2 linked regions of the Homo sapiens genome follow. The protein of the gene in region 1 purifies or fractionates together with the protein of each later gene. This does not show direct contact. Each region holds a gene or a part of one and is shown in the gene's direction. Other genes may lie near its edges.

Region 1 (2,628 bases):
TAATCCTTTGGGTATATACCCAGTAATGGGATGGTTGGGTCAAATGGTATTTCTAGTTCTAGATCCTTGAGGAATTGCCACACTGTCTTCCATAATGGTTGAACTACTTTACAGTCCCACCAACAGTGTAAAAGTGTTCCTATTTCTCCACATCCTCTCCAGCACCTGTTGTTTCCTGATTTTTTAATGATCGCCATTCTAACTGGTGTGAGATGATATCTCATTGTGGTTTTGATTTGCATTTCTCTGATGACCAGTGATGGTGAGCCTTTTTCATGTGTCTGTTGGCTGCATAAATGTCTTCTTTTAAGAAGTGTCTGTTCATAACCTTTGCCCACTTTTTGATGGGGTTGTTTTTTTCTTGTAAATTTGTTTGAGTTCTTTGTAGATTCTGGATATTAGCCCTTTGTCAAATGTGTAGATTGTAAAAATTTTCAGGAGATAGAGACATAAAAAACCCTTCAAAAAATCAATGAATCCAGGAACTGGTTTTTTGAAAACATCAACAAAATTGATTGACTGCTAGCAAGACTAATAAAGAAGAAAAGAGAGAATAATCAAATAGATGCAATAAAAAGTGATAAAGGGGATATCACCACTGATCCCACAGAAATACAAACTACCGTCAGAGAATACTATAAACACCTCTATGCAAATAAACTAGAAAATCTAGAAGAAATGGATAAATTGCTGGACACATACACCCTCCCAAGACTAAACCAGGAAGAAGTTGAATCCCTTCAGTAGACTAATAACAGGCTCTGAAATTGAGGCAATAATTAATAGCTTACCAACCAAAAAAAGTCCAGGACCAGACGGATTCACAGCCAAATTCTACCAGAGGTACAAAGAGGAGCTGGTACCATTCCTTCTGAAACTATTCCAATCAATAGAAAAAGAGGGAATCCTCCCTAACTCATTTTATGAGGCCAACATCATCTTGATACCAAAGCCTGGCACAGACACAACAAAAAAAAGAGAATTTTAGACCAATATCCCTGATGAACATTGATGCAAAAATCCTCAATAGACTACTGGCAAACCAAATACAGCAGCGCATCAAAAAGCTTATCCACCATGATCAAGTGGGCTTCATCCCTGGGATGCAAGACTGGTTGAACATACGCAAATCAATAAACATAATCTACCATATAAACAGAACCAAAGACCAAAACCACATGATTATCTCAATAGATGCAGAAAAGGCCTTTGACAAAATCCAATAGCCCTTCATGCTAAAAACTCTCAATAAATTAGGTATTGATGGGATGTATCTCAAAATAATAAGAGCTATTTATGACAAACCCACAGCCAATATCATACTGAATGGGAAAAAACTGGAAACATCCTTTTGAAAACTGGCACAAGACAGGTATGCCCTCTCTCACCACTCCTATTCAACATAGTGTTGGAAGTTCTGGCCAGAGCAATCAGGCAGGAGAAAGAAATAAAGGGTATTCAATTAGGAAAAGAGGAAGTCAGATCGTTCCTATTTGCAGATGACATGATTGTGTATTTAGAAAACCCCATCATCTCAGCCCAAAATCTCCTTAAGCTGATAAGCAACTTCAGCAAAGTCTCAGAATACAAAATCAATGTGCAAAAATCACAAGCATTCTTATACACCAACAACAAGCAACAGAGAGCCAAATCATGAGTGAACTCCCATCACAATTGCTTCAAAGAAAATAAAATACCTAGGAATCCAACTTACAAGGGATGTGAAGGACCTCTTCAAGGAGAACTACAAACCACTGCTCAATGAAATAAAAGAGGATACAAACAAATGGAAGAACATTCCATGCTCATGGGTAGGAAGAATCAATATCGTGAAAATGGCCATACTGCCCAAGGTAATTCATAGATTCAATGCCATCCCCATCAAGCTACCAATGACTTTCTTCACAGAATTGGAAAAAACTACCTTAAAATTCATATGGAACCAAAAAAGAGCCCGCATTGCCAAGTCAATCCTAAACCAAAAGAACAAAACTGGAGGCATCATGCTACCTGACTTCAAACTATACTACAAGTCTACAGTAACCAAAACAGCATGGTACTGGGTACCAAAACAGAGATATAGACCAATGGAACAGAACAGAGCCCTCAGAAATAATGCCGCATATCTACAACTATCTGATCTTTGACAAACCTGAAAAAACAAGAAATGGGGAAAGGATTCCCTACTTAATAAATGGTGCTGGGAAAACTGGCTAGCCATATGTAGAAAGCTGAAACTGGATCCCTTCCTTATACCTTATACAAAAATTTATTCAAGATGGATTAAAGACTTAAATGTTAGATCTAAAACCATATGAACCCTAGAAGAAAACCTAGGCAATACCATTCAGGACATAGGCATGGGCAAGGACTTCATGTCTAAAACACCAAAAGCAATGGCAACAAAAGCCAAAGTTGATAAATGGGATCTAATTAAACTAAAGAGCTTCTGCACAGCAAAAGAAACTACCATCAGAGTGAACAGGCAGCCTACAGAATGGGAGAAAATTTTTGCAACCTACTCATCTGACAAAGGGCTAATATCCAGAATCTACAAAGAACTCAAACAAATTTACAAGAAAAAAACAACCCCATCAACAAGTGGGCAAAGGATATGAACAGACACTT
Region 2 (3,500 bases), on another chromosome or scaffold:
AGAAATTCAACAGTGATACAGTTATTTAATATGTGATCCGTATTCAGATTTCACCAGTTGTCCCTAAAATGTCCTTTATAGCTATCTTCCTGATTCAGGACCCAATCCATCAAGGATTGTATATTGCATTTGGTTATCCTGTTTCTTTAGAATAGTCTCTCTGCCATTTGCTGTCTTTCAAAAATTGATATTTTTAAAGAGTTCAAGCCAGTTTTCTTTTTCTTTTTTTTTTTTTTTTCTTTTTTTGAGACAGAGTTTCGCTCTTGTTGCCCAGGCTGGAGTGCACTGGCACGATCTCGGCTCACCGCAACCTCCACCTCCTGGGTTCAAGCAATTCTCCTGCCTCAGCCTCCCGAGTAGCTGGGATTACAGGCATGTGCCACCACGCCCGGCTAATTTTGTATTTTTAGTAGAAACGAGGTTTCTCCTTGTTGGTCAGGCTGGTCTCAAACTCCCAACTTCAGGTGATCCCCACCCGGCTTGGCCTCTCAAAGTGCTGGGATTACAGGCGTGAGCCACCACGCCCGGCCTAAAGCCAGTTTTCTTGTAGAGTGTTCTACAACCTATATTTGACTGTTTCCTCATGATTAGAATCAGGTTAAACATTTAGCAGATGCCAGTATCCTTTTTATAATGTTAAGTTTCTAGTGTGCAATTAAGGCTGTAACTGTAAGGCTTCCCTAATTGTTCCAGCGTTCACATGTAAGGCAAGCAGTAAGCACTACCCAAAATGAAAAGCAGATTCTTTAAAAGTAGTAGGTGATTGTTCATCTTCAAGTTTTATTAGATAATGGCATATCTTAAATTATATTCTTTTTTTTCTTCTTTTTAGGCCGGCATTTGTAAATCCACTCATCCCTGAAAGCCCAGAGGAAGAGGAGCTCTTTAGACAAGGGGAATGTACATTAATTTGTTTATAATAAAATAAATTTGAAAAGCACATTAATTACGCTGCAGAAGAGATTATTTAAGATTTTATATGGGCTCTTCATACCAGTCAAATGTCTTTTTTTTGTTTGTTTTTTTGTTTGTTTTTTTTGAAATGGAGTCTCTCTGTCTCTTGCCAGGCTGGAGTGCAGTGGTGCCATCTCGGCTCACTGCAACCTCTGCCTCCTGGGTTCAAGTGATTCTTCTGCCCCAGCCTCCTGAGTAGCTGGGACTACAGGTGCGCGCCACCACACCCAGCTAATTTTTGTACTTTTAGTAGAGATGGGGTTTCACCATTTTGGCCAGGATGGTCTCGATCTCCTGAACTCGTGATCCGCCTGCCTTGGCCTCCCAAAGTGCTGGGATTACAGGCGTGAGCCATTGTGCCTGGCCCAAATGTCTTATTCATACCAATAATTTATTGAAATTAAAAATATGCTATTCTTTTTTCTTTGGAGTCCATACTTTGAATGATTTTATTGATCAGACAATATTTATTAAGTGAAGTAATTTGTTATCTCCGTTTTTTTTTTTTAGACAGTTCTTGCTCTGTTGCCCAGGCTGGAGTTGGGCTTGGGTCCAGGAGTTTGAGGCTACAATGAACAATATTGTAGTCTCGATCTCCTGGGCCCAAGCTATCCACCCACCTCAGCCTCCTGAGTAGCTAGGACTATAGGCACGTGCCACCATGCCTGGCTAATTAAAATTTTTCTTTGTAGAGACAGGGGTCTCACTATGTTGCCCAGGCTGGTCTTGAACTCCTGGACTCAAGCAATCCTCCTGCCTCCGCCTCCCAAAGTGTTGGGATTACAGGCATGAGCCACTGCACCTGGCCTGTTTTCTCCGTTTTAATGAAGTGAGAAATGCATCTCAATGGGATAACTGCAGGTCAGGGCTCTGGATCAGGATGATATCAAGTGATCTCACACTGAACCAATATAATTTCCATGTGGAACCAAAGACTCACTGGGAGTTTTATGTGGCCTCTGCAGTTTTCTCTTGGATACGTGTATAATTTTCAGTGAGATTTTGAAAGGCATCCCAGGTCAGAATACCGTGTGCTGTAGTGCGACCGTCCTGATCATTGCTCCTTATTCTCCCTTGTTCCAGTGAACAAGGGGAGAAGAATTGCCTTCAGCTCCACGTCGTTACTGAAAATGGCCCCCAGCGCTGAGGAGAGGACCACCATACATGAGATGTTTCTCAGCACACTGGATCCAAAGTAAGGATGGTGAGATTCCACGTTGGGAAAACATTTAAACCTTGGCCTTTTTTTTTTTTTTTTTTTTTTGAGACGGAGTTTCGCTCTTGTTACCCAGGCTGGAGTGCAATGGCACGATCTTGGCTCACTGCAACCTCTGCCTCCCGGGTTCAAGTGATTCTCCTGCCTCAGCCTCCGAGTAGCTGGGATTATAGGCATGCACCTCCACGCCTGGTTAATTTTGTATTTTTAGTAGAGACGGGGTTTCTCCATGTTGGTCAGGCTTGTCTTGAACTCCTGACCTCAGGTGATCTGCCTGTCTCCACCTCCCAAAGTGCTGGGATTACAGGCGTGAGCCACCACACCCGACCTTTTTTGTTTTTGAGATGGAGTCTTACCCTGTTGCCCAGGCTGGAATGCAGTGGCGTGATCTTGGCTCACTACAACCTCTGCCTCCCGGGTTCAAGCAATTCTCCTGTCTCAGCCTCCCAAGTAGCTGGGATTACAGGCGCCCGCCACCACGCCTGCTAATTATTTTGTATTTTTAGTAGAGACGGGGTTTCACCACGTTGGCCAGGCTGGTCTCAAGCTCCTGACCTCATGTGATCTGCCTGCCTCGGCCTCCCAAAGTGTTGGGATTACAGGCGTGAGCCACCGCGCCTGGCCTAAACCTTGGCCTTCTCCAGAGCCACAGTTGTCTGAGTGTATTGGGAGTGACTTGCAAATGTTTTTACTTTTCAACAAGAGAACCATGGCATTAACAGGGTTTAATAAATATTCATTTGTACAGGACTATAAGTTTTCGGAGTCGAGTTTTACCCTCTAATGCAGTGTGGATGGAGAATTCAAAACTGAAGAGTTTGGAAATTTGCCACCCTCAGGTATTATAATTTAGTGAGAAATCCGAATAGGATAGCTTCCGTTCATGATATTTGTCCAAGATTTGACACACCTTTAAACTGGCCTTTGTCCTGTGGCATTGTTAATTCCTCTGTTCTGTATACAAAGGTGGCCATAAGTTTTGTATTTATTGATATTTATTTATGTCCTGTAGGAGCGGAACATTTTCAATCGGATCTTTGGTGGTTTCCTTATGAGGAAGGCATATGAACTTGCGTGGGCTACTGCTTGTAGCTTTGGGTGAGTTACATGTAAGGCAGCCTTAACTTCTGAGAAGCAATTTATATCACCCCACTGAAATGAAACATTTCGGACCAGTCTGGGTGTGTGTGGGAATATGTTATGTTTTTGAATGAATACCACACTGATACCAGCTGAATTTGATCTTCATTTTAGAAGGTTGTTTCTCTGACTTTGTAAGTTCATACATTAAAAAAACTACTGAGAAAATACAGTGATGATATGTAGAAAG

Evidence for each region.
Region 2: the proteins of OCIAD2 (region 1) and ACOT9 fractionate together in Homo sapiens (co-fractionation; one large-scale study listed by BioGRID). This does not show direct contact.

The regions. Positions count from the first base shown.
Region 1 is NC_000004.12:48,887,147-48,889,774, reverse strand, and holds part of OCIAD2 (OCIA domain-containing protein 2), read left to right. Parts: intron 1-2,628. UniProt on the Homo sapiens protein: Has an essential role in the assembly of mitochondrial respiratory chain complex III. Is also required for STAT3 activation and plays a role in cell migration.
Region 2 is NC_000023.11:23,705,277-23,708,776, reverse strand, and holds part of ACOT9 (acyl-coenzyme A thioesterase 9, mitochondrial isoform a precursor), read left to right. Parts: intron 1-832; coding exon 833-900; intron 901-2,037; coding exon 2,038-2,149; intron 2,150-2,918; coding exon 2,919-3,009; intron 3,010-3,182; coding exon 3,183-3,268; intron 3,269-3,500. UniProt on the Homo sapiens protein: Mitochondrial acyl-CoA thioesterase. Catalyzes the hydrolysis of acyl-CoAs into free fatty acids and coenzyme A (CoA), regulating their respective intracellular levels. Regulates both mitochondrial lipid and amino acid metabolism.